Linked DNA regions of Homo sapiens. The protein of the gene in region 3 purifies or fractionates together with the protein of the main gene of each other region. This does not show direct contact. Each region holds a gene or a part of one and is shown on either strand. Other genes may lie near its edges. The genes, in order: TCTN2, NPTX1, TCTN1 and TUBB8.

The links.
Region 1: the proteins of TCTN1 (region 3) and TCTN2 purify together in Homo sapiens (affinity purification with mass spectrometry; 3 studies listed by BioGRID and IntAct, with this or other methods). This does not show direct contact.
Region 2: the proteins of TCTN1 (region 3) and NPTX1 purify together in Homo sapiens (affinity purification with mass spectrometry; 2 studies listed by BioGRID and IntAct, with this or other methods). This does not show direct contact.
Region 4: the proteins of TCTN1 (region 3) and TUBB8 purify together in Homo sapiens (affinity purification with mass spectrometry; 2 studies listed by BioGRID and IntAct, with this or other methods). This does not show direct contact.

The regions. Positions count from the first base shown.
Region 1 is NC_000012.12:123,674,102-123,681,131, reverse strand, and holds part of TCTN2 (tectonic-2 isoform 1 precursor), read right to left. Parts: intron 1,944-7,030; coding exon 1,843-1,943; intron 1-1,842.
Region 2 is NC_000017.11:80,466,578-80,473,607, reverse strand, and holds the end of NPTX1 (neuronal pentraxin-1 precursor), read left to right. Parts: intron 1-163; coding exon 164-408; intron 409-1,696; coding exon 1,697-1,876; intron 1,877-2,573; coding exon 2,574-2,795; 3' UTR 2,796-6,774; downstream 6,775-7,030. UniProt on the Homo sapiens protein: May be involved in mediating uptake of synaptic material during synapse remodeling or in mediating the synaptic clustering of AMPA glutamate receptors at a subset of excitatory synapses.
Region 3 is NC_000012.12:110,645,104-110,649,935, forward strand, and holds the end of TCTN1 (tectonic-1 isoform 1 precursor), read left to right. Parts: coding exon 1-26; coding exon of another isoform or gene 27-40; intron 41-2,092; coding exon 2,093-2,233; intron 2,234-2,645; coding exon 2,646-2,789; 3' UTR 2,790-2,790; intron 2,791-3,582; exon of another isoform or gene 3,583-3,939; 3' UTR 3,940-4,306; downstream 4,307-4,832. Other genes in the region: HVCN1 (voltage-gated hydrogen channel 1), read right to left, coding at 4,307-4,372. UniProt on the Homo sapiens protein: Component of the tectonic-like complex, a complex localized at the transition zone of primary cilia and acting as a barrier that prevents diffusion of transmembrane proteins between the cilia and plasma membranes.
Region 4 is NC_000010.11:46,358-53,660, reverse strand, and holds TUBB8 (tubulin beta-8 chain), read left to right. Parts: upstream 1-4,364; 5' UTR 4,365-4,422; coding exon 4,423-4,479; intron 4,480-4,748; coding exon 4,749-4,857; intron 4,858-4,935; coding exon 4,936-5,046; intron 5,047-5,202; exon of another isoform or gene 5,203-5,236; intron 5,237-5,378; coding exon of another isoform or gene 5,379-5,546; coding exon 5,547-6,604; 3' UTR 6,605-6,773; downstream 6,774-7,303. UniProt on the Homo sapiens protein: Tubulin is the major constituent of microtubules, a cylinder consisting of laterally associated linear protofilaments composed of alpha- and beta-tubulin heterodimers.

The DNA.
Region 1 (7,030 bases), about 13 Mb from region 3:
TGCACTATCATGCCCAGCTAATTTTTGTAGAGATGGGGTTTTGCCATGTTGCCCAGGCTGGTATCCAACTCCTGAACTCAAGTGATCCACCCACATCGGCCTCCCAAAGTGCTGGGATTACAGGCGTGAGCTGCTTCGCCAGGCCTGTTCTTTCTTATTCTTTCTTTTTTTATATTTCTTAAAGGTTTCTGAATAAATATTATTAAAACCATCCCCCCAGTATGATCTTCACAATCATGATTTTATCCAAAGAGATATTCTTTCCTTCTTCCAAAAACTAGACTGACTATGCCAGATAAGAAAATACTGAATTTAGGCCCAGTGCAGTGGCTCACTCCTGTAATCCCAGCACTTTGGGAGGCCGAGGTAGGCAGATCACCTGAGGTCAGGAGTTTAAGACCAGCCTGGCCAACATGGTGAAACCCCGCCTCTACTAAAAATACAAAAATTAGCCAGGTGTGGTGGCGCACACCTGTAGTTCCAGTTACTCGGGAGGCTGAGGCACAAGAATCACTTGAATCCAGGAGGTGGAGGTTGCAGTGACCCGAGATCGTGTCACTGCACTCCAGCCTGGGCAACAAAGCGAGACTCTGTCTCAAAAAAAAAAAAAAGAAAGAAAAAAGAAAGAAAATAGAGTTTATATGTTGTATTGCTCTAAGCCTAAAAGAAAAAAAGTCAGGCCGGGCATGGTGGCTTACACCTGTAATTCCAGCACTTTAGGAGGCCGTCTCAAAAAAAAAAAATTTACTCAAAAGTTGTGTGATTTTTTTTTTTTTTTTGAAACGGAGTTTCGCTCTTGTTGCCCAGGCTGGAGTGCAGTGGCACAATTCTGGCTCACTGCAACCTCTGCCTCCCTAGTTCAAGCGATTCTCCTGCCTCAGCCTCCAGAGTAGCTGGGATTACAGGCGCCCACCAACACGCCTGGCTAATTTTGTATTTTTAGTAGAGATGGGGTTTCTCCATGTTGGTCAGGCTGGTCTCAAACTCCGGACCTCAGGTGATCCGCCCACCTTGGCCACCCAAAGTGCTGGGATTACAGGTATGCGCCACTGCGCCCACCAAAATTTTTAAATTTAAAAAAATACTCAATTTGGGCTGGGCGCGGTGGCTCACGCCTGTAATCCCCGCACTTTGGGAGGCCGAGGCGGGCGGATCACGAGGTCAGGAGATCAAGACCATCCTGGCTAACACGGTGAAACCCCGTCTCTACTAAAAATACAAAAAATTAGCTGGGCGTGGTGGTGGGCGCCTGTAGTCCCAGCTACTCAGGAGGCTGAGGCAGGAGAATGGCATGAACCCGGGAGGCGGAGCTTGCAGTGAGCCAAGATCACGCCACTGCACTCCAGGCTGGGCGACAGAGCGAGACTCCATCTCAAAAAAAAAAAAAAAAAAAAACTCAATTTGAAAACAATTTGCAATAGAAAACATAATCTCAGTTTTGGAAGACCATCCCTTAAAAAGCTGTTGGGGCAAGGCATGGTGGCTCACACCTGTAATCCCAACATTTTGGGAGGCCAAGGTAGGAGGACTGTTTGATCCCAGGAATTTGAGACCAGCCTGAGCAACATGGCAAAATCCCATCTCTACAAAAGATACAAAACAATTAGCTGGGTGTGATGGTTCATGCCTGTGGTCCCAGCTACTCAGGAGGCTGAGGTAAGAGAATCACTTGAGCCCGGGAGGTCGAGGCTGCAGTGAGCCATCATTGCATCACCATACTCCAGCCTGGGTGACAGAGCAAGACCCTATCTCAAGAAATAAAAAATGAAAAAAGCTGTTGGTGGAACTGCTGGTGTTCTCACAGGTAGCATAACTTTTGTGCCCAATAACCAAAGAACATACCTGGTCACAGCAGCAGCGAACATCACAGGCTCCAGCTGTTAAATTACAAGGACAAGGGCCAAGGGGCTGATACACCTGGTTAGGAATGACAGTCACGTTCTCTGAAAAGTACACACAACAGAAAAATTCAGCTAAGAAACATTCCGACAAAGCACAGTCACATTTTTGACATTCAAAAGAAAGCTGAATTATCGGCCAGGCGCGGTGGCTCACGCCTGTAATCCCAGCATTTTGGGAGGCCAAGGCAGGTGGATCATGAGGTCAGGAGATCGAGACCATTCTGGCTAACACGGTGAAACCCGGTCTCTATTAAAAATACAAAAAGTTAGCTGGGCGTGGTGGCAGGCGCCTGTAGTCCCAGCTACTTGGAAGGCTGAGACAGGAGAATGGTGTGAACCCGGGAGGCGGAGCTTGCAGTGAGCCGAGATCGTGCCACTATACTCCAACCTGGGCGACACAGTGAGACTCCGTGTCAAAAAAAAAAAAGCAAGCTGAATTATCTTGTTTTGTAAATCATTATTACCAAATATTTGACATTAAGGAATCCACGAAGTATATGAGGCCTGCATCTACCACTCCAACAAAAACCCAAACATAAGAAAACACGCCAGTTACAATGAACCAAAGAAGTCATAGTTGATCTAGAAGATAATCAATTGACTAAGAGTCACAAGTTAGTATATACATAATGTACTGATTTTAGGCTGGGCGGGGTGGCTCACACCTGTAAACCCAGCACTTTGGGAGGCCAGGGTGGGTGGATCACCTGAGGTCAGGAGTTCAAGACCAGCCTGGCCAACATAGTGAAACCCTGTCTCTAATAAAAATACAAAAAGTAGCCCAGGCTACAAAAAAGAAACAGATAAAATTAACTTAATATATTTTACTGAACCCAACGTATCCAAAATAATATCATTGCAACAGGCAATCAATGTAAAAATTATGAATGAGCTATTCCACATTCTTTGTTTCACATTAAGTCCTCAAAAACTGGTGGCTGTTTAACAGTTACAGCACATCTCAATTAAGACCCATCCCCTTTCAACTGTCCAGTGTCCAGACATGGTTCGTGGCTGTGGTACCCAACAGTGCAGGTGGGACAAATGTGGTCTGACCACGAGAGTATGGGGGGCTGGGTTATGCAGGGATGATACAGTGAGACACAACAGCTTCCCTGAGGGGCTCGCACTCTCAGAGGGAGGAGACAGGTAAAGAGATCATGTGACCATAAAGGGTAAACACTGAAATGGATCTGCCATGGGAACCCAGGGAGGGCACGTGGCTTAGGCTGGGCGTCAGGAAGACTTGCAGAGAGAGAGAATGCGCTGAGCCTGAAACACACGTAAGAGTTTGTACAGGTAGCCAGGCACAGTGGCTCAGGCCCGTAATCCCAGCACTTTGGGAGGCCAAGGCGGGGGAATCACCTGAGGTCAGGAGTTCGAGACCAGCCTGACCAACATGGAGAAACCCCATCTATACTTTAAAAAAAAAGAAAGAGTTTGTACAGGTAAGAGGGGCTACTGGAGAGCTGTAGGTGGAAGACAGAGGGGGTGGATGAATAGGGGGAACACTGTGGTGCAGGGGAGAAGGTGGCGGGCGTGAATGGGACAAGGCCAGAGAAAGCAGCTCAGGAGAAATGCTAAAAAGGTAAACATTGGCAGGGCCCGTTGTTTATAACTCTTCAGGATATTACAGGTTTCCGAACTTGTTTTCCTCTTTGAAGAGGAATATGTTACACGACATTTCAGCCTCCTAACTCAGAATCCAGTGACAGTAATGCTTTGGATTTCTCTCCAATCATTTATCAGATAAAAGTTTCATTCTGCTGAATTTTACTTTTGCATTTGGTACACGTTAGAAAACCATGCAGGAACTATTTGTTTAAACCCCACATAACAGTTAACTGTAATGACACAATAGCTGAAGTATCTAAAGAACAACTAACGATCTGTTCTATCCTGTAACATAGCAGAAGGTCAATGATACATCAATGGTATCCGGAACAAGGAGAAGGTCCACATCGCAGACCACGTTACACGGGTAAGGGTCTGACCCTCAGTGTTATCAAACCCATGTGACACAAGCAAGGCACTTTATTGATTTTTTTTTGAGACAGGGTCTCACTCTGCTGCCCAGGCTGAAGTGTGAAATGGCACAATCACAGCTCACTGCAGCCTCAACCTCCCAGGGCTCAAGTGATCCTCCCACCTCAGCCTCTCAAGTAGCTGGGACCACAGGTGTGCACCATCATGCTCAGGTAACGTTCATATTTTCTGTAAAGACAGGGTCTCACTATGTTGTCCATGCTGGTCTCAAACTCCTGGGCTCGAGTGATCCTCCCATCTTGGCCTCCCAAAGTGCTGGAATTACAGGCATAGTACATGAGCCACCACCCCCAGCCACGAGACACTTCAGAATAGGGTTTTACTATGTGTTATACAAATAGATGTTTGTGTGTTGATTTATGTTTTCTACATTGTTCGCTGGCTTCATTGTTACTGGGTATGACACATACCTCCTGTCTGTGCTTCCATTCTTTTTCTAGTTTTAATCGCTGGCTGGCTGAGTAAAAAATTTTTCATGCCTTCATGGGGTCAGAGCTGACAACTCAATCACTCATATACAAAGATGTTCAATTTTCTAAGTTTGGTATTCTAAAATATTAAATATTACCTAAATATACTGAAGCATATTTTCCTTTTTTTTTTTTTTTTTTTTTTTTTAGATGGAGTCTCGCTCTGTCACCCAGGCTGGAGTGCAGTGGTGTGACCTTGGCTCACTGCAAGCTCCACCTCCCGAGTTCACGCCATTCTCCTGCCTCAGCCTCTCGAGTAGCTGGGACTCCAGGCACCCGCCACCATACCCGGCTAATTTTTTGTATTTTTAGTAGAGACGGGGTTTCACCGTGTTAGCCAGAATGGTCTCGATCTCCTGACCTCGTGATCCGCCCACCTCAGCCTCCCAAAGTGCTGGGATTACAGGCGTGAGCCACCGCGCCCGGTCTTTTTTTAGAGACAAGGTCTTGCTCTGTCGACCAGGCTGGAGTACATGGAGCAATCCTGGCTCACTGCAGCCTCCACCTCCTGGGCTCAAGCGATCCCCCGACCTCAGCCTCCCTCATAGCTGGGGCTACAGGCACCGACTACCACGCACAGCTAATTGTAGTATTTGTTTGTAGAGACAGGGTTTTGCCATGTTGCCCAGGCTGGTCTTGAACTCCTAGGCTCAAGTGGCCCACTCACCTCAGCCTCTAAAAGTGTTGGGATTACAGGCATGAGCCACCACCTGGCCTCAAGCATATTTCTCAAAGGAAAAAAGTCAGTGCTTTGAATGGTACAGCTATCATGAATCCCTTCTGTTGTTTTGGGGGGATTTTTTTTTTCATCATTGAATACGGTTTTTTTGGCTTTGTTTTGAATTTTAAGCCATAGAAAAATTTAAAACTTTTAAGTGGGTAACACATTTGCATGGTTCCAAAAAATCAAAAGCATATTAAAAAATTCCTCACTGTCAGCCCTTTCCTGTTCCCACATCATCCTCCAACTTGGTAGCACATTATTAGCTTCTCCAACATCCTTCCAGAATTTCTTTATGCAAATGTTTTCATTTCTGCCTCCTTTATGCAAAAGATAGCACACTGTAGGCAGCCATCTGCACTTGCTTTTTTCACTTCATTCATCATGGAGGCCTTTCCATGCAAGTACACTGAGGGCACAGTAGTCTGCTGAAAGGAGCTGTCAAAACTTGTCTTATCATCCTAAACTTCCAGAAGCACCAGGAGGACCACAGTTAGGGATGTAATAAGGGAAGCGGCAGTAAAGGAGTCTCCAGGTAACAGACTTTTGCTACTAAAGTCTGGAACGCTTCTCCCTCCATGCCACGTGGCCATAAAGGCAAGAGATGTCAGAGTTCGCCACCGGAGACAGGGGACATGGCAGTAGCACTCATCACTGCAGAGCCCTCTACATCGGCACATCTAGTTGAAAGCTCTTTTGGTTTAAGAACACTAACATCATGTGAGACGGAGATGAACACAAAACCATTTTCTCATGTCCAAAGATTCATGTACACGGGCATAACGATCTTTGCTGTAGCATCAAAAGCTGGGAACAGACCAGGTGCAGTGGCTCCTGCCTGTAATCCCAGTACTTCAGGAAGCCATGGTGGGAGGATCACCTGGGCCCAGGAGTTCAAAACCAGCCTGGCTAACATAGTGAGACCCTGTCTCTACAAAAAATGTAAAAACTAGCCAGGTGTGGTGGTGCACGCCAGTAGCCCCAGCTACTATGGAGGCTGTGGCAGGAGGATCGCCTGAACCAGGAAGGTTGAGGCTGCAGCAAGCCAGGATCGTGCCCCTGCACTCTAGCTCCAGCCTGGGTAACAGAGTGAGACCGTGTCTCTAAAAAAAATGAAAATAAAAATAAATTTTAAAAAAAGCTGGAAATGATGTAAACTTCATCAGCCTCAAACTCCTACGCTCAAGCGATCCTCCCACCTCAGCCTCCCTAGTAGCTAGGGCTACAGGCAGGCACCATCATGCCCAGCTTTTTAAAATTTTTTATAGAGACAGTATCTGCTGTGTTGCCCAGGTTGGTCTCGAACTCCTGGGCTCAAGAAATTCCCCCGCCTTGGCCTCCCAAAGCACTTACAGTGTGGGAGCCACTGCGTCTGGCCACCCTTCCTTTTTTCTTCTTAAGATGCAGTCATGACAATCAATGCACGTGCCGAGCACAGTGGCTCACGCCTGTAATCCCAGCACTTTGGGAGGCCGAGGCAGGCGGATCACAAGGTCAGGAGATCAAGACCATCCCAGCCAACATGGTGAAACCCCATCTCTACTAAAAGTACAAAATTAGCTGGGCGTGGTAGCGTGAGCCTGTAGTCCCAGCTACTCGGGAGGCTGAGGCAGGAGAATCGCTTAAGCCCAGGAAGTGGAGGTTGCAGTGAGCCGAGATCACAACACTGCACTCCAGCCTGGTGACAGACTTAGACTCCATCTCAAAAAAAAAAGAGAGAGAATCAATGTACATAAACAAATTTCACCTTCTCCCAAAAAGGATTCAAGGTAGCTTATAAAGATGCAAACAGTAGAGAAAGATCAAATAAATGTTAAATAAAATAGTACAAAATGAAATTTCTTAAAAGAAAACTAAACAAAAGAAAAATAAGTTTAGAAAAGCAAGACAGA
Region 2 (7,030 bases), on a different chromosome or scaffold from region 3:
GGGCAAAGTACTTGACCTGGGAAGCTACCCGCTCTGCGTCTCCAGAATGGAGACCGGAGCCTGCCCTGGCCACGCATCACAGAGCTTGGTGGGGACCGAACTCAACTCAGACACCGATAAGCACTTCACGCAGGTGCAGATGTCAGGACTGTGTCTTCCGCAGGTCAGAAAGACAACCGCCCTGGAGACAAGTTCCAGCTCACATTCCCACTGCGGACCAACTATATGTATGCCAAGGTGAAGAAGAGCCTGCCAGAGATGTACGCCTTCACTGTCTGCATGTGGCTCAAGTCCAGCGCCACGCCAGGTGTGGGCACGCCCTTCTCCTACGCTGTGCCCGGCCAGGCCAACGAGCTGGTCCTCATTGAGTGGGGCAACAACCCCATGGAGATCCTCATCAATGACAAGGTAGAGCAGCCCCCGGGCTCACAGGGCGGCAGGGCGAGGCCCCAGGGCCCCAGCTCATGTTGCATGCGGAGACAGGGCTATGGTGGCCTCAGATGTTGATGGGGCCCCAAGGAAAGTGTTTGCCAGGTGGGACTGAGGGAGGGGGAGGGTGAAGACCAGGAGAAGTGGTAGGAGCCCCCTCACCTGTACTGGGAGAGCAGGGAGAGCTGGACCTTCCCGGATGCCTCCTGGGGTGGGTACGGGAGATGGCGGAGAACGAGCCATGGGGCCTGGCCCTGCCCGATGATGTGATCTGGACTCCTCCACCAGCTGGCCTTGGAACTGGCTTTGCCCCTCCATAGCAGGGACCCAGAGATGCTCTAGCGGGGTGAGGGGTCCTTAGAGATTTTTCCTGAGTCCAAGTCTATCCCACTCAGCCCCCTAACTCTCGGGAGGAGGACAGGTCTGTGTGATCCCTTGGAACAGGACAGCACAGGCAGCCTTTCCCTCTAGTGAACATTCTCCATCCTCCCCTGTTAGCTATGGAACTAGCTGCCAGCTTTCAAACTGTCTCAAGTCCAGGCCAGCAGTGGTAGTCAATGGCTAAAACCTGGGCTGGGAAGTGGATTCCACGCCCTTGTTCCTGTTGCTCTTCCCCACAAAGGGCTGTGCCATTCTGGGCCCCCTTTCCCCAAGCGGAAAGGGTGTGAAGTTTCTTTCCTCACTGTCTGCTGGACCGTCATCCTCCCGACCTGGAATGGCAGTGGGAGAGTGAAATTCCAGGTTGGAGGCTGGTCTGAGCTTTAAAAGGCATCGTGCTCCATGACATCTCTCAGATCCTCGGCAAAAGCTTGCCGTGTTGTAGAGTGAGAGGGTGTAACAGCTAGAGATGGGACATCGGAAGAGAGAGGAGAGGCCAGCAAGGAGGCTGCACAGATGTCGCACGGAGCCTTGAGAGGCAGCAGTGAACTCAGACACCAGGGACGGCTCTCCCTGGTGTAGACTAGGGCTTGTTGTGTAGACTAGCAAAGAGGGAGGAGGGTGAGTAGGAGTGAAGAGACTGCACACCCACATGGCCCTTGGGGGTTCCCTCGGTAGAGCCTTACATTTCCTGTGTGATTCTGTGCCCCACGCCCAGGCGGGGCTGACAGACGCTGAAGTCTGGGGCAGTAGGTGCTGTGAGAATTCAGTAATAGTTATTGACATTTACTTTGCAAGTAGAGATAGGAACAACTGAGGCAGTGAAGATTATGGCTTCTGGGCTGTACCCCTGTACTCACCAGCTGGCGTCTGTCATTCTCCTTCCCAGGTGGCCAAGTTGCCTTTTGTCATCAATGATGGCAAGTGGCACCACATCTGTGTCACCTGGACCACCCGGGACGGGGTCTGGGAGGCCTACCAGGATGGCACGCAGGGTGGCAGTGGCGAGAACTTGGCGCCCTATCACCCCATCAAGCCCCAGGGCGTGCTGGTGCTGGGCCAGGAGCAGGTACTGTGCTGGATGTGGTGGGGAAGGGGAGAGAGCTTCAGAACCAGAGGCTGGGAAGGGGAAGAGGAGCAAGGAGGGAGGGAGGTAGCCGGAGAAGTGGTTCCCCTGAGAAGCAGCCCGGGGAGCAGGCTGGGCAAGGCCTGTGCCCTGGGTGGACATGCACTTGAACTTCCTGCAGGAGTGAGCTCTGGTTTCAACGCTCTCAGAGCTGCAGCAACACTTTCTTTGGCATGGGAAGGCCAGTTCTGCTTTTAGTGATGCATAATCTAGTTCCCGTGAAGTGGTTTGTCTCCTGTTGGGCACCTGGGAGGAAGACGAAGGGATGGAGAATCGGGGACGTCTGTCCCTGTTGGGCAGCTTTAGCTGGCATGGAGTGATGTCTGGGCAGGGGCCCCAGGCCCAGCTGCTGTGGTTGTCCATGGCTGAGGGACCAGCTGCAGGAGGGGCAGAGTCCAGGTCCCCCCAGGAGAAGCTCCAGGGCAGAGGTGGTCGGTGCCATCCCTTTTCTTGGGCTCCCCCAGAGGAGGGATGGATGTAGGGCTGGAGAGTCAGGGACAGGGAGACGAAACGGCACCTAGGAGTGTCCGTGAGAGTCCGTGATCGGGCAGGCACAGAGGCACTCAGATCCCCGGCCTAGGGATGGGCCCCCAGACCACCTGGCGACCCCTCCACTCTCATCCTCTGTTTTTCTCTGAAGGACACTCTGGGTGGTGGGTTTGATGCCACCCAGGCATTTGTGGGTGAGCTGGCCCACTTCAACATCTGGGACCGCAAGCTGACCCCCGGGGAGGTGTACAACCTGGCCACCTGCAGCACCAAGGCTCTGTCCGGCAATGTCATCGCCTGGGCTGAATCCCACATCGAGATCTACGGAGGGGCCACCAAGTGGACCTTCGAGGCCTGTCGCCAGATCAACTGAGCACGGCAGGCCAGGCTGAGCCCGCCCGCCCTCGCCCCCTGCTTGTGCGGCGATGATCTGTTTTGTGCGTCTCTTCTCTCCCTTTTCCCCAGGAATGAACCGAGGCCGTCGCCCCTGCACACGCACACGCACACAGCCTGGTTTTGTCCTCATGCACACGAAGCAGCCCCTGCTCCCATCTGTCCCTGAGGAAGCCCCACTTCTCTGTAGGAGCCCGGACTCTCTCAGGCATGCCCCATTCACAGCTGAAGTGGGTGCTGCAACGTCTTGAACAAGGCAGAAGTTGGTGAGAGGATCTGTGTGTGCGTGTCTACATGTGTGTGTCTACGTGTGTGCGTGCGTGGCTGGGGGAGGCCTTTTCTTTGAGGACGTACCTCATTTCCTTCTTTCTTCTGGCTTTGGAAAAATCTCATGATGAAAATTCATATTTGCCAACTTTGTTAGCTGCGTGCGTGCTTTGGGGTTGGTGCAACCTCAGTACACGCATTTGTCTTTGTTTGCAAACCTTTCTCAGAGCGACATATCTTTATATTGATGTAATAAATGTCTTTTAGTGGTTTGTCAAAGGCCGGGGGCGGGGGCTCTCTACAGAGAATTTTTATTTTGTAATAGAAGTGAACTGTCTCTGAAGGGTGAAGGCAGGCCGTCCTGGGATGGTACCCTGTGCTCTCCCGTGGAGGAGAGGGGATGGCTGAGGACACTGGCCCTTACCCCAGGGCCAGACAGCATCCATCCCTGCTGTTTGCATCTGAGAGCAGCATGGGGCCTGGGAGGTCGGCCTGTGTGCCCAGCTCAGCTAGCTCTGCCCCAGGACGGCCCTGCCCTCGACCTTCCCACCTCCTCAGATCCTGCAAGGCTGGGGTCTGCCCCTCCCTTCTCACCTCTGGAGCTGTGCTGCACTGCTTCAGCCCAGAGGGCCCTGAGAGAGGAGCGTGCCACCCACAGCCCGGGAAGCCGGGCCCCAGCACCCCTCTCCTTTGGCCTCCGGCAGTGCAGACCAGAGGGGACCTTTTAAGGAAAGAAGCCGTGTTTCGATGAAGACCTGGCCACATGGGGCCACTGGGACTTCAACCCAGCCCATCGGTGGGAAGGTCCTTTTTGGGGGACTTTGACAGCCATATCCCTCCCAGCACACCAGGCGCCAGGTGAGCTGGTTCAGACCCCTCCAGGGGTACTCCAGAGACCTCACGTGTGGAGCCAGGCCTGGCCAGGGCAGGGGCCTGAAACCCACTCCTCCATCTCATGGGGCTCACGGCCTACAGCAGCCCACAAGCTGCCACTGGCCGGCGACACTGACACCTGAGCAGTGTCCAGAACCTTTTTGCCTTTTTTTGTTCCCCGTGAAAAGCAACATGGACATTTCCTTCTAGTCCTTCCAAGGAGGGGAGAGAAGTGTATGTGCATTTGTGTGTGTGTGTGTGTGTTGTGTGTGTGTGTGCGCTAAGTGAGAAAGAGAGCAGGCTCGGGAGGCCCTGCCCAGGGTAGGAGGAGCTTCCTGCTTTGCACCATCTGGTGGTCGCACGCCCTGAGGGCACCCCGACTCTGTCTCCAGGAGTCTCATCAGCAAACCGCTGACAAGTCTTTCTAGAAATTCTACTGCACTGCCTGGCTCAGCTGCAGCTGCAGACATTTCTGCAGGAGGAGCAGGTGTTTCTGTCTTCTGTTCCTTCTAGGGCCACCTGTCCCCTTAAACACAGGTCCACGTTGTGTCAAGAACCTAGTGCATCTGTGTGTGTCTGTCAGTGTCTCTGTGTCAGTGTTCTCGTGGGTGTCTGCACGGTACCCGGCCGCCGTTCTGCAATGCATCACTCCCGCAGAGGGGGGTGCAGATCAGGCGCCGTGCTGCGCGTTGTTGTTCAACAGTGGCTTTTTCTTAGATAATCGTGCTTCCTCAGCGCCCGTCGGGTTGTGGCATCCTTGGATCTGCAGGGATCTTCTCCGTTTGCATGTTCCTCGGGGTGGCGTGTTCCTTGCTCCCTGGGTCCGACATGTGTTCCCGCACCTGCATGGACTGCCCCGGTTCTGTGTTGTGTGCCGAGTGCCGCCCAGTGTTCTGTGACCACCCGTGTAGCTACTGAAAATGGCTGGGTAAGCAAGTCAAGGGTGTTGGAGGAGGTCAAGAGAGAGCTCAGTTTCCCTCTCCCCCTCCCCAAACACACCAAGAAGCATTTTTAACGTGTAGGTTGAGAACAAGCCTAAAGGATTCCCACAGCTGGGAGCCAGCAAGAGAGCTTGGAGTCGCCTCTCTAGACCAGATCTAGCCCCACCCTCACTCCAGCCATCTCGGAGCCCTTGTGTAGGCAACGCCCGGTGCGGGCTGTGTGGGGTGCTCCCCTGCCAGCACCTCCGGCCAGCCCCGCCCCTGCCGATCTACTGGACCGCAGACCACCTTCTGCCCCCGTGGGCCAGGTGGGAGCTGTCCGTTCAGGACCATGAGCCATCCTCTGCCCTGACTAGCGAGGGGCAGAGCACACCCCAGTGCTTACGCCTCCACCCCTGCAGCCTCCTGGCCCGCTCACCTTCCTCACCCCTCCTCTGACCCACCCATGGTGCCAGGGCCGAAGCTGACCTTTAGCTCCCTCCTGCCCCTTGCTAGGGTCTGAGCCAAGCCCCTCGACTCCCTCACTGTGTTGACACTTGGCACTTTGCTGGCCCCGAGAAAGGTCGATGACACAGCCGCAAATCTAATCCACGTAGTTCCCATTTACTCCTTAATCTGATTGATGTTCCCTCTTGCACTGAATAATACATGCCTCTCTCAGGTAAGCCATTTTATAAAACAAGAAGATAAAAAGCACTGTTGAGGCAGTGTTTGCTTTTGCCGAGCTGGTGTCCGACAGCTCCCTGGGTGTCCGGGGTGGGAGAGCTGTTGACAGAAGCTCTCCGGGCCCTCAGGGGCTTAGATCCCACTTGAGTCGTAAGCCTTCTTGCTTTTGATAACACAGTATTATTTCTCTTACTGTAGAAGAAAAAGTTTATTACCAAACAAGAGTATTTTTATGAAAGAAAAGGACAAACCTATAAATTAACTCAACCTATATCTCCCTTGAAAATACTTTCAGGCTCCACCAAAACGTAGAACTGAAAGCATGTATTTTGGAAGAAAGAGATACATTTTGTATGCTTTCTTTTCCTTTTGTAGATTCCCAGTTTATTTTCTAAGACTGCAAAGATCACTTTGTCACCAGCCCTGGGACCTGAGACCAAGGGGGTGTCTTGTGGGCAGTGAGGGGGTGAGGAGAGGCTGGCATGAGGTTCAGTCATTCCAGTGAGCTCCAAAGAGGGGCCACCTGTTCTCAAAAGCATGTTGGGGACCAGGAGGTAAAACTGGCCATTTATGGTGAACCTGTGTCTTGGAGCTGACTTACTAAGTGGAATGAGCCGAGGATTTGAATATCAGTTCTAACCTTGATAGAAGAACCTTGGGTTACATGTGGTTCACATTAAGAGGATAGAATCCTTTGGAATCTTATGGCAACCAAATGTGGCTTGACGAAGTCGTGGTTTCATCTCTTAAACACAGTGTGTAAATTTATTCAACTAACGATGGGAAATGTATTACTTCTGTACACAGTGGACTGAAGTGCAATTTGTTGAAAGGGAACAAGTCATTGAAGAGAAAAAAAAAGCCCAATACTTAGAGTCCCAATTTTGTCTCATTTGCCAAAAAAAAAAAAAAAAAAAAAGCAAACCCCCTATGGTTGATATTGTTATAATGTATATACTGTATAATATGAAAGAGAATCGATGTATCTCACTTTTTCATTATTTGCTAACCAAAGCTGTACATTTTTCATATGATCTGCAGCCTTTTGGGTATCAAATGGGTCAAAACCATGGGACCTGCCACCTCCCATCAGCAATTCTGGAAATGCACTATTTCTACTGGTATTCTTGCTTTTTTTTTTTTTTTCATTTTCTTGCTGAAATGACATGAATTGTTGAGTTTATTTTTACACAGTAAAGAGTGGAGAAAGACTGTGGTCTCCTCAGGATGTCTCTTCTTTTCCGAGGCTTGCCAATGCCACCTCCCCCTGCAGCCACCCCTCTTCCCCAGCCAGGTGCAGGTGACCCTCACCTGCAGGGGGTGTGTGCCTCGCTTGTGCATTGCCCTGTGCCCTTTGACAACCCCACACCGTCTGGTGATGCTGGATGTTGGGTGGAGGGGTCTCCATTTCCCAGGGGCAGCTGACGCAGAGGCAGAGAGTGGCCCAGTGTTTCCCCAACTCAGTGAG
Region 3 (4,832 bases):
TCATCACCCAGTCATTCAACAGGAAGGTAAAGGGGAGAAGGTACAGGTTCCATGCTAGTGGTCTCTGTCTTCCAGGTGGTGTGATGAAGGCAGCCGGGGAAGCCAGCTGTTAAGGAGGCAGGATGGCCCTGAGTGGGAGCGCGGGCTGAATCTTGGATACTGATTTTTGCCCCTTGTTAGCAATGTTGCCTCTGGCCAGCAGTTTTATGGCTTTGAGCCTCTGTTTTCATCTGTGAAATGGGAACGCTAGTCAATAGTGAGTGAATGGCCTCATGGGGCATTGAGAGGGTTAAGTGAGGTAACATTTATGTGGCCCTGGGCATGGTGCCTAGTGGTCCATAAATGGGAACCTCTGTGATCCTCATCCTGTTGCTACCATCATTGTGATTGCTGGTGTCCCCCGAGCCCTCTCCAGGCATCTCATGACACGATAGACGAATGTTGAGTCCTGTATCAAAGACTGAGACTGACTTCCGTGCATGTGGCTCTCCCACCCATTGTCCCCTGTTCTACACAGGCAGCCCACACCTGAGAGTTTTCACTGCCACAGTTCCTCACAGAGTTGAATGGAAGTTGACAATCCTACAGATAGGTTCCCGGTCACACATGATGCTTCTGCCCACCTTTTTCTTTTGTCTTAGCAGTCAGCGTGTGGGCCGGCCCTGGCCCAGGGGCGTGCTCTCCATCTTAGCCTGTAATTGCCCAGCTTGTTCTTGTCACGCTTTCTTCAGACCTCTCATTATCCGCTCCGAATATTTCTAGCATGGGCATAACGGGGGTGAGGACTGCTCACTTCTCTGATCCGCCCTCCCACCGAGGCCAGCAGAGACCCGGGATTACTCAGTCCCTGCCGTTCCACTGCGAAGTCTTGACTCAACTCTCCCACCAGAACCAGGCACATCGCTTCTGGCTTCTTGGCCATGGGTGAAGATGTGCAGTTATTACTCCTCCTCAGAAGGGAAGACATGGGTTGGGAGGAGAGGCAGCAGTGCGCACATGGCACCGTCAGGGTCTGTGCTGATCCTGGGTGCTCAGAGGGCCTGCAGCAGCAGGTTTTGTACCAACTCTGCCGGCAACCCAGGTAGAGGCAGGCACGAGCACCTGCTAAACTCAGTTTCCACCAGCTGCATGCTGCATTGTCTCCTAAGAACAGGGTATTCGAGAGGATTGTTCAGTCTGCATGGTTTTTAAAGGCGGTTCCAAGCTAAGGAATTCCATCAGTGCTTTTTTCGCAGCCACCAAATTTAGCAGGCCTGTGAGGTTTTCATATCCTGAAGAGATGTATTTTAAAGCTTTTTTTTTTTAATGAAAAAATGTCAGACACACACAAAAGTAGAATAGTACCATGGAGTCCCCACGTACCCAGCCTGCAGCTTCAACAGTTACCACATTTGCCAACCGGAGAGACTGCCAAGGCAGGAAAAAGCCCTGGAAAGCCCACGGCCCCTTTTTCCCTTGGGTCAGAGGCCTTAGAGCTGGCTGCCAAAGCAGCCAACCAAAGGGGCAGCTCAGCTCCTTCGTGGCACCAGCAGTGTTCCTGATGCAGTTGAAGAGTTGATGTCTTTGACAACATACGGACACTGCCTGGATTACCTAGATGTCACATCTTAATTGCCAATTGATGAAATTAGGTAAATGAAAAGAAAGCACTTAAATTTCCCCTTAGAGCATTTTAACATGACATGCAATCAGGTTTTGTCTGCTAATAATTATTTCTCCCCCTCCATCCCTCCCACCAGTTTCTTTCCTGAAGTCTGTGAGGCCGCTATAAACAGGTAGATGAAGTTAGAGCAGTTATGGCCCTAAATGGTCCACAGTTGGGTATTGGCACTACCGCAGTTTCAGGTGATGTCGGCATTTTTAGAAATAGGAGGAGATGGAAAAATTACGCTTCAGCTGTTAAAAATATTTTTGGGGCATTGAGTTACTTTAAAACACGTATATTCTCTAAGCTGTTTTTATCTGAACTTGTAGAGTCTATTCATTTTCTTGTTCAGAACATTTTGTAATATGTGAAACCTTTTATAATTAAAACTCTGAACTGCAGATTAAGTCTGACTTGCAGTTTTGTAAGATTCTAATGGATTAACAGCATTTTGTTTTGCAGGATTCCTGCCAGCTCCCAGGGGCTTTGGTTATAGAAGTGAAGTGGACTAAATACGGATCCCTGCTGAATCCACAGGCCAAAATAGTCAATGTAACTGCAAATCTAATTTCATCCTCCTTTCCTGAGGTAGGCCTAACCTAGTTTAAAGGCATAGGTTAAGACAGAAGTCTAGACACAACTCAAGTGTGGTAGGTGACAGGTATTACTTTGTGAAAAAGATTATAATTTAAACCATGGGGGTTCATAAAATATTTCAGCAGTCATTCTTAGAAACACTGACGATGGTTCTACTTACATTAGCATTCTGGTTCAGATTGGATCTTTAAAATTCTCATGAAAATTATGATATTCACGTGTTAATCAGACACCCTGGTAAAATTGTTTCTCTCATCCAAGTTAATGGCCAATTAGTGCTCCAGGACCTATCAGATTCATGAACTGACAGTAGTTGGGTGAGGAAGAGAATGAAAAGTGTCTCATTGTTGTCATTCTGGGAGCACACTGGAGGGTGGGCCTTGCATCTCTCTGTTTATTACAGGCCAACTCAGGAAATGAAAGGACGATTCTTATTTCCACTGCGGTTACTTTTGTGGATGTGTCTGCACCTGCAGAGGCAGGCTTCAGAGCTCCACCAGCCATCAATGCCAGGCTGCCCTTTAACTTCTTCTTCCCGTTTGTTTGACGTAAGTGAGGAAACTACGCCCCTCCTCTGAGGTCATCCCCTTTGGAAAGTGTGCACGTGGGGCTAGAAGTCCCTAGGGGATACTGCATTTTATACTTTTTGAGGGTCTCGCTTTGTTGCCCAGGCTGGAGTGCAGTGGTGTGATCATGGCTCACTGCAGCCTTGACCTCCTGGGCTCAAGCAATCCACCCACCTCAGCCTCCTAATAGCTGGGACTACAGGTGCACACCACAACACCTGGCTAATTTTAATATAGTTTGTAGAGATGGGGTCTTGCTGTGTTGACCAGGCTGGTCTCAAACTCCTGGGCTCAGGTGCTCCTCCTGCCTCGGCCTCTGAAAGTGCTGGGATTACAGGTGTGAGCCACCATGCCTAGCCTTATTATACTTCTAACCTTTGAGGTTGCCTCCAAACCAGCACACTGCCCTTCTCCACTCCCTTCCTGCCTTTTTTCCTTTTGGAAATGTTATTCTATCTGACTTTTGAATGGGGAATATGCTTAACACATAGGTCATAGATGATAGAACCCAAAAAGTCTTTGGGGAGATGGTAAAGAACATGAACAGGACTTGAAGCAGCAGAGGCAAGGGGGATTTGGCCAGTTCATTCATCCCCTGCTTTGAGTTATTTATTTTAAAAATACTCAGTTCAGGTTTTTTCCTTTTTGGGTCCGGTTGAAATGAGTACAAAAAAATAGCAAAATATTAGATAAAATCATGCGAGAAGAGCACACAGCCCTTACAAGGGGATCTTCCCCCAAATACCTTGTTAATTATAGTGGAGTCTTGGGTCTAATTGCCATTTCTGCACCAGGCACTGTAGCTAGCTTGCTCTCCGACTGGCAGGCTGGTATGGGTGCCACAGAGGAAAGAATACAGTAGGAGGGTCCAGGGAAAAGAGAGAGTTTATTTTATACAGTAGTTGTTTTATTTTATACAGTAGTTGTACAGTAATTGAGGAAAAATGTTGTCAGGTGGCAGAAAACAATGGAGCCACCTAGAAGCTGGCTGATGCAGCTGGGGCACACAGAGGAGGGGCCTGGGTACCCCTTTTGGGGAAACTGAGACGAAGCTATTTAGAACAGCTTGAAAATAAGAGACTTTTCTAGAATGGGGTGGCAGCTAAAGTAGCTTCTTTTTCTTTCTTTCAGAATGCTCAGATGCATCAGTTCCTTAATATACACGTGAAATTTGAAAACTGTACATTCGGTGAGATTAAATTTTATATACAACTAGCAATTGTCCAGCTTTGTTGCTCATTTTCAATTAAGGCTAAAGTGTTCAACATGAGAAAATGTGATACATTTGATACAGTGTGGGGTGGGAGTGGATGGGCAGCTCTTGGTGGTACTGGACCTTCCACAAGGCTGTGTCCACCCAGAATCCATGCTGGCAGGAGGGAGGCAGAGGTATCAAACCAAACCTCTCACCAAGCGGCCCAGGAGGGGCAGCTGTTCCTCTCGTGACAGCACAGGCCCATGAGACAGTGTCTTCTTTTTGAGGGGAGCTGGTCCGGGTCTAGTTCACTTCACCAAGAAGTCCATGCTGTCGCAATAGTTTGTTAAGTCTTTCAATTTCTTGTTCCTATTGCAAAAGCAGACAAACACTGGAATTTACTTTGAGCCTCGCCAGGGATGTGACAATCAATCATTCAGTGAGCCCCAGGCACAGGACCACAGAGATGAATGAAAGCTACGCTGTTTGTGGCATTCAGTCTGCTGAGGAGACTGCTACAATCAGATAGGCTTCACTGAGCAGCAGTGACAGCAGTGAGAAGACAAACGTGGGGGACCTGGCAGAGCCCTGGGATGTGGGGGTGGGCACAGCTTCAGGGAGGATGTGACGCCTGGGCTGGATCTGAAAGGACAAGGCAGGCTCAGCCCAGGGAAGGGCGCTCTAGGTGCATGAGCAGCGCTCTGCTGCAGGCGGGTGCTGCGGCAGAGGCCAGCTTCCCAGATATCTTTTTTTTTTGAGACAGAGTTTTGCTCTTGTTGCTCAGGCTGGAGTGCAATGGCGCGATCTTGGCTCACCACAACCTCCACCT
Region 4 (7,303 bases), on a different chromosome or scaffold from region 3:
AAACACTGTTTTTCTTTTCCACTGAATAACACCACATTTCAAAATGAGGGGAAACATCTTGAAACTAAGAGGTATGGCCTTACTAAATTTGTTTTGGTTTCCATTGTAATTAATTTAATCACATGTGTTCTAGAGTTTGTCCTCAGTCTTCTACTTTAGGCTCATGATCTGTTGAATTTGCTCAGCTCCCTGCTCAACAGCAGGAAATCAGAATTATTTAAAAGCCTCATTGTGGCTGGGAGCAGTGGCTCATGCCTGTAATCCCAGCAATTTGGGAGGCCAAGGTGGGCAGATCACTTGTTGTCAGGGGTTTGAGACCAGCCCGGCCAACAGAGTGAAACCCCATTTCTACTAAAGATACAAAAATTAGCTGGGTGTGGTGATTCATGCCTGTAATCCCAGCTACTTGGGAGGCTGAGGCAGGAGAATCACTTGAACCTGGGAGGCAGACGTTTCAGTAAGGCAAGATGGTGCACTGCACTCCAGCCTGGGCAACAGACCAAGACTCTGTCTCAAAATAATAATAATAAATAAAAATAAAAATCTCATGTTTCAAACAAAATTTCTTTTGCATATCAACTGTGTCAACTTGCATATTAACTATAATCATTTTGTTTACTTTATGTCCAATCCTGAGAAATCTTTGAGTACTAATTTCACTCTTTTCTGCCATTTTGGTAAACATACCAAATGCCATCAAACAAAATGCACAAAATTCCTGAGAAATACATTTTCTCCTTGAGGAGTATACTTGTTGTGTTAGAGGAACTCGTGGTTACCAAGCTTCTAGTTTAATACACATGACTAGAATTCTCTATCTTAATATGAGTAGCTAGGTACTCACAAGGCATCTAGAAGGTTAATACCTATGGTCTGAAAATAGCCACATTTTTTTACTGGCCACAGATTACAATTGCAGAATATTTATGGCCATACAAGACATCTTCCACCAAGCCTGAAAAATGTATAAATGTCCTAGGAGTGCAGCATTTTTTGTTAAAGATAATATTAACGAGCTAGCTTAGGTCAACGGGTTAATGGTCATTGTTAAAACGAATAGCCCCGACTTTAATGAGTACATCTGCACCTTCCAAGTTTAATTATAACTCTTTCTCTTTATAGTTAGAGACACTAACAAAAGACAATGCATTCCTGCTCTTGTTTTCTGAGGATGTCCAACTCTGTAATGGAGTCATTTCTAATAAACTTGCTTCTTTCACTGTGCTCTCTGACTCACCTCAAATTTTTTACTGCACAAGATCTAAGAATCCTACTTTGTGGTCTGTGTCAGGACCCTCTTTTCTAGCAACATCTTTCAGCAACACCATGAAGGGACACCAAGACAAGACCCCCACTCCAAGGAAAACAATCCACATAGAATCATTTAGCTGGCAAGTGGGCTGTGTTTTAGGGTCATGAAGCCATTCAGGTTGGCAAGAATGATTACCCACTATTACTTAAGTGAGAGGCCCTAGGGTATAATATTAGGGTGAGAGACTCAGCCCAAAGTAGAGACCTGGGGGTGTCATACTCAGATTAGAGGCCAAGCCCACAGGGTTAGAGGCCCTGGGGAACATTGAGAAGAATGGATTTGGCTAAACAAGATGTTTGCCACTTTCTCTTTTTGGACTGTCCACCTTGTGCTCTTTGTCCCTCACCTGAGTGCTCTGCATATTGTTGCCTTTCTGCTCACCGCCTCCGTTTTGCAGTAGCCTGGAGGCAGCCCCAGGAAAGAGGCCCCAAACAGTTTAGCTTTTACTTTCCTTAGCGATCCTCTGACTTTTAGCCTTGATGTCTTAGAGCTATTGCTGCTACCACTTTTCTAGTTGGCAAAGATAATAAACTAACATTAGAACAGCACCTACAGGTTTTTGACCCCACACCAAGGGAAGGTGGTCCTAGAAGGTAAAGGGCAGCAGTGGATAATAGGAGAATATTTATGAAAGTGTCAGGACTTATTGCTAGACCGACCCTCCAGACACAACCCTTAAAGCCTGCCAAGCCATAAACCCAGCTACTTAGCTGTCAGAGTCCACAGGTGCTTCTAGTCTTTCTGGCATACAGGCTGTATTAGTCTGTTCTTATGCTGCTAATAAAGACATATCTGAGGCTGGGTAATTTATAAAGAAAAGAGGTTTAATTGACTCACAGTTGCACATGGTCGGAGAGGCCTCACACTCATGGCAGAAGGCAGGTGAGGAACAAAGTTACATCTTCTACATGGCAGCAGGCAAAAGAGCTTGTGTAGGGAAACTCCCCTTTGTAAAATCATCAGCTGTAATCCCAGCACTTTGGGAGTCCAAGGCAGTGGATGACCTGAGGTGAGGAGATTGAGGCCAGCCTGGCCGACATGGTGAAACCTCGTCTATACTAAAAGTAGAAAAATTAGACAGGCATGGTGGTGGGCGCCTGTAATCCCAGCCACTCGGGAGGCTGAGACAGGAATCGCTTGAACCCAGCAGTCAGAGGTTGCACTCCAGCCTGAGCAACAGAGCAAGACTCTGTCTCAAAAATAAATAAATAAATAAACCATCAGATCTCATGAGGCTTATTCACTGTCATGAGAACAGCATGGGAAAGACCCATCCCCTGATTCAATTACCTCCCACTGGGTCCCTCCCACAATATATGGGAATTAGGGGAGCTACAATTCAAGATAAGATTTGACTGGGGACACAGCCAAAGCATGTCACAGGTTATGAAACAAATTGATTCTAGCAGGCCAGACATAAGAGAGATGATTCCCTGGACCATCCCAAGGAAGAGTGGTTAACAGATGCAAGTTGTTTTATGCATCAGGAAAACAGGAGGGCTAAATATGCTATTATTAGCACAAGAGAATCAATCAAGGCACAAGCCTTGCTGGCTTCGACCTCAGCAGCTCAAAAAGCTGAGTTAATTGAACTAACTAGGCCCCTGCAGTTGGGAAAGAATTTAAAAGTTAACATTTACACTGATTCCAAGTATGATTTTTTAGTGCTTCATGCTTATGCTGCAATTTGGAATGGGTGGGGACTCCTGACCCCCAAGGGCTTTTCCATACAACATCGTTCAGATTTTGAGCTTGTTAGAGTGCTGCTTTGCTGCCAAAAAGTGAGTATAATTAATTGCAGAGGACATCAAAAGAGAGACTGACCATGTAAAAGGAAATGCCCTTGTAGATGCCACAGCCAAGGCCCCTGCACTGAAAGGGCCAATGAAGCTTGTGGGCGTGCTGGTCAGCATACATAGAACTGGGCCAGAATACCCTGAAGAAGAACGAAAATGGGCCAGGGATTGCATTTCAGTCCAGGGCCCCTCGGGCTGAATGATGGTAATAAATTACTAATGCCAAGTACCAATCACAGGAGTATAACTCAGCACTTTCATGATTCTTTTCACCCTAGAAGGGATTCTTTGTTTCTGTTAATGTCTCATTTGTTTATAGGGGTAAATCTTTTCAAGACACTAAAACAGGTGACTCAGCCCTGTGAGCTTTGTGCCTGACATGACTCAAATGGCCAGCAATTTTCTCCTTCTCCAGTTAAACCTGTCCAAAATTGAGGAACCTATCCAGGTGAGAACTGGCCACTCTAATTTACCCGGAAGCCTTTCTGCAGGAGATTCAAATATTTGCTAATGCTTACTGACACCTTCACTGGTTAGATCGAGGCATTCCCCACCCCATCTGAAAAATGTTTACCAGAAGAAATAACTCCTCAGTTTGGGTAATCCAAAAGCCTGCAAAGTGACAATGGCCCATCTTTCACAGCAGGCGTATCCCAAAACCTGTCCTCAGCTTTAAGAATCCAATATGACCTTCACTCTGCTGGAGACCACAGTCCTCTGGAAAGGTGAAAGGGCTAACCCTACTCTAAAGAAGACTCCAGCTAAATCAGAGGCCTGACTGTCTCTAACACCCATAGCTTATTGTGGGTTAGAACTGCTCCAAAGTAAAACGTATAATTGAGTCCTGTTGAGTTCACATGTGGAAGGCCTTTCCTAACCACAGATCTCCTAATAGATGAAAAGACTCATCAATTACAAAAATATGTCATCAATCTAGGACAGGTGCAAAGGCACTCCGTGCATATGGAAACAAGAGTCTTCCCCTCCCACATGGGAGGAAAATTCAGTTTCAGCTCAGCTAGGGATTTAGTCTTACTAAAGACGCGGGAGGAAGTTCTCCAGCGAGCAGCTTTCCCCAACGTGGAAAGGACCACGCAAGGACACCTGAGCTTTCCAACAGATGTTCAGCGCCAGGGGATCCACAGGTGGGTGCACCTGTGTGGAAGTAAAGCTGTTGCTTATTCTGGGAGCCGAATCCGAGGCGGAGGGAGGTGGGCGCGGGGCTATTTAAACGTTGGCGGAGGGCGGGCTGGGTCGCTGCGCGTCTGCTCCTCCTTCTCACGTTTCTCCTGCCGTCCTAATCCCGCCTTGGCCATGAGGGAGATCGTGCTCACGCAGATCGGGCAGTGCGGGAATCAGATCGGCGCCAAGGTTGGCAGCCGGGGCTCTGAGGGCCTAGCCCGGGCCTGCCGGGTGGCCGGGGAAGGTGTTGGCAGTGGCGGGGGCGGTGCCCATGCATTGCGGCCCCTGGGCTCCCTGCCGGGGACGGTGGAACCGGGTGGCTGGCGAGGCGGCCGGGGTGGACCCCAGGGACAGGGCGGCCTAGGGATGGGGGTGCGGATGAGGGTGGGGGTGGGAGAGCGGCTGGGGCGCCTCCCTGACTCAGCCCCGGCCTGTCTGTCTCCTCCCGTCTCTTGCAGTTCTGGGAGGTGATCTCTGATGAACATGCCATCGACTCCGCTGGCACCTACCACGGGGACAGCCACCTGCAGCTGGAGCGCATCAACGTGTACTACAACGAGGCCAGCGGTGAGACCCCCGTCCTTCCCCCACCGCCCTCCTGGGAACGCGGCCCTCCCCTCGCTCATGCCCTCCCGCCCCACGCAGGTGGCAGGTACGTGCCCCGCGCTGTGCTCGTGGATCTGGAGCCGGGCACCATGGACTCTGTGCGCTCGGGGCCCTTCGGGCAGGTCTTCAGGCCAGACAACTTCATCTTCGGTGAGCTGCGGGCGAGGACTGGGGTGCGGCTCCTTAGCCAGGGCAGCTCAAAATCCAGGAGTGTGCTAAGGTCATCCTCTGGGAACTGTGGAGCTAGGGCCCCTGAACACCCTCCTATCCTCCGAGTCGAGTCGCTCAATCTGCCTCTCCTAAATGGGCTTCGGGAGGAAGGCCCTGGTGTCTCCTCAAGGTGAGGAGTTACTGATGTAAACTCCCTGCAAGAACCTGAGCTGGGGCCGTGGCTACTGCCTTTCCTGAGAATGGGCAGGAGCCACCTGCAGCGAGGTCTGTGAACCCGTCTCAGGTTTGACTCCTGTCTTAATTCCTAACAGGGGAAGCTGCTGTCCTGTAACTCTGGGGGAGGGGGTTTCATCTGCTCCACCTGCAGGGCGAACGGTGCTCTCACCTCACGTGTGACGCTTGGCTCTTTCTGCATTATGGTGGTGACCACTGATGACCGTATACCTGGCCGTCGAGTGACCGGCTGTGCTGTCTTACAGGTCAGTGTGGGGCCGGAAACAACTGGGCCAAGGGACACTACACCGAAGGCGCGGAGCTGATGGAGTCAGTGATGGACGTTGTCAGAAAGGAGGCTGAGAGCTGTGACTGCCTGCAGGGTTTCCAGCTGACCCACTCCCTGGGTGGGGGGACTGGGTCTGGGATGGGTACCCTTCTGCTCAGTAAGATCCGGGAGGAGTACCCAGACAGGATCATAAACACATTCAGCATCCTGCCCTCGCCCAAGGTGTCGGACACCGTGGTGGAGCCCTACAACGCCACCCTCTCAGTCCACCAGCTCATAGAAAACGCAGATGAGACCTTTTGCATAGATAACGAAGCTCTGTATGACATATGTTCCAAGACCCTAAAACTGCCCACACCCACCTATGGTGACCTGAACCACCTGGTGTCTGCTACCATGAGTGGGGTCACCACGTGCCTGCGCTTCCCGGGCCAGCTGAATGCTGACCTGCGGAAGCTGGCCGTGAACATGGTCCCGTTTCCCCGGCTGCATTTCTTCATGCCCGGCTTTGCCCCACTGACCAGCCGGGGCAGCCAGCAGTACCGGGCCTTGACTGTGGCTGAGCTTACCCAGCAGATGTTTGATGCTAAGAACATGATGGCTGCCTGTGACCCCCGTCACGGCCGCTACCTAACGGCGGCTGCCATTTTCAGGGGTCGCATGCCCATGAGGGAGGTGGATGAACAAATGTTCAACATTCAAGATAAGAACAGCAGTTACTTTGCTGACTGGCTCCCCAACAACGTAAAAACAGCCGTCTGTGACATCCCACCCCGGGGGCTAAAAATGTCAGCCACCTTCATTGGGAATAATACGGCCATCCAGGAACTCTTCAAGCGTGTCTCAGAGCAGTTTACAGCAATGTTCAGGCGCAAGGCCTTCCTCCACTGGTACACGGGCGAGGGCATGGATGAGATGGAATTCACCGAGGCCGAGAGCAACATGAACGACCTGGTGTCTGAATATCAGCAATATCAGGATGCCACGGCCGAGGAGGAGGAGGATGAGGAGTATGCCGAGGAGGAGGTGGCCTAGAACTCTCCTTTTCTAGGTAAAGGGGGGAAGCAGTGTGGATTCTTTACTGTGTTCTGACAGCCATGTGTCACTATACGCTTGTTAATTTGTGTCTTCACATCTCCTGCTGCGTTTTAAAGCATTTTTATAGTATGCGGTTTTGACTAATAAAGTATTCTCACAGCATCTGGTTTTGCCTCCATCTTCTTTCTATGGGCCCTCTGGCTACTGCTGCCAGATGCGCATAGTTGTCCTGCAAGGCGGAAGCTGTCTGGGTTCATCACATGCCCAGGAACAAGCATTCCAGTGGCTCCAGGAGGGGTCGGTATGGGCTGTGGACATGGCAGGCAGGCTTCACATGAACTTGGGGATGCCCTGGGCCTTGGGCAGTGACGTGGTGGAAAACCTGTTGCTGAAGGCAAGCCTTGGCTTATCCCATATACCAAACTTCTAGGGGACCAGCTGGCCATGTTTCTGGAACGTTAAAAGGGGTCAGTGACCCTGGTGGACAATGTCCCCAGAGTCCCATCTCAGGGTAGGAATGTGGTCAGAGCTGGCTCTGAACCAGCAATGAAGGGTGGGCAAGTGGGACCCCAGGCACTCCATCATCACGATGGCCTGGGTGTGTTTGTGTGGCCTCATTCTCTTAATGAGGTGGGCATGGGATGTCTGGCAGGGACTAGGCAGGAATCAAGCCCAGTGTCTGCTAACATGCACTGA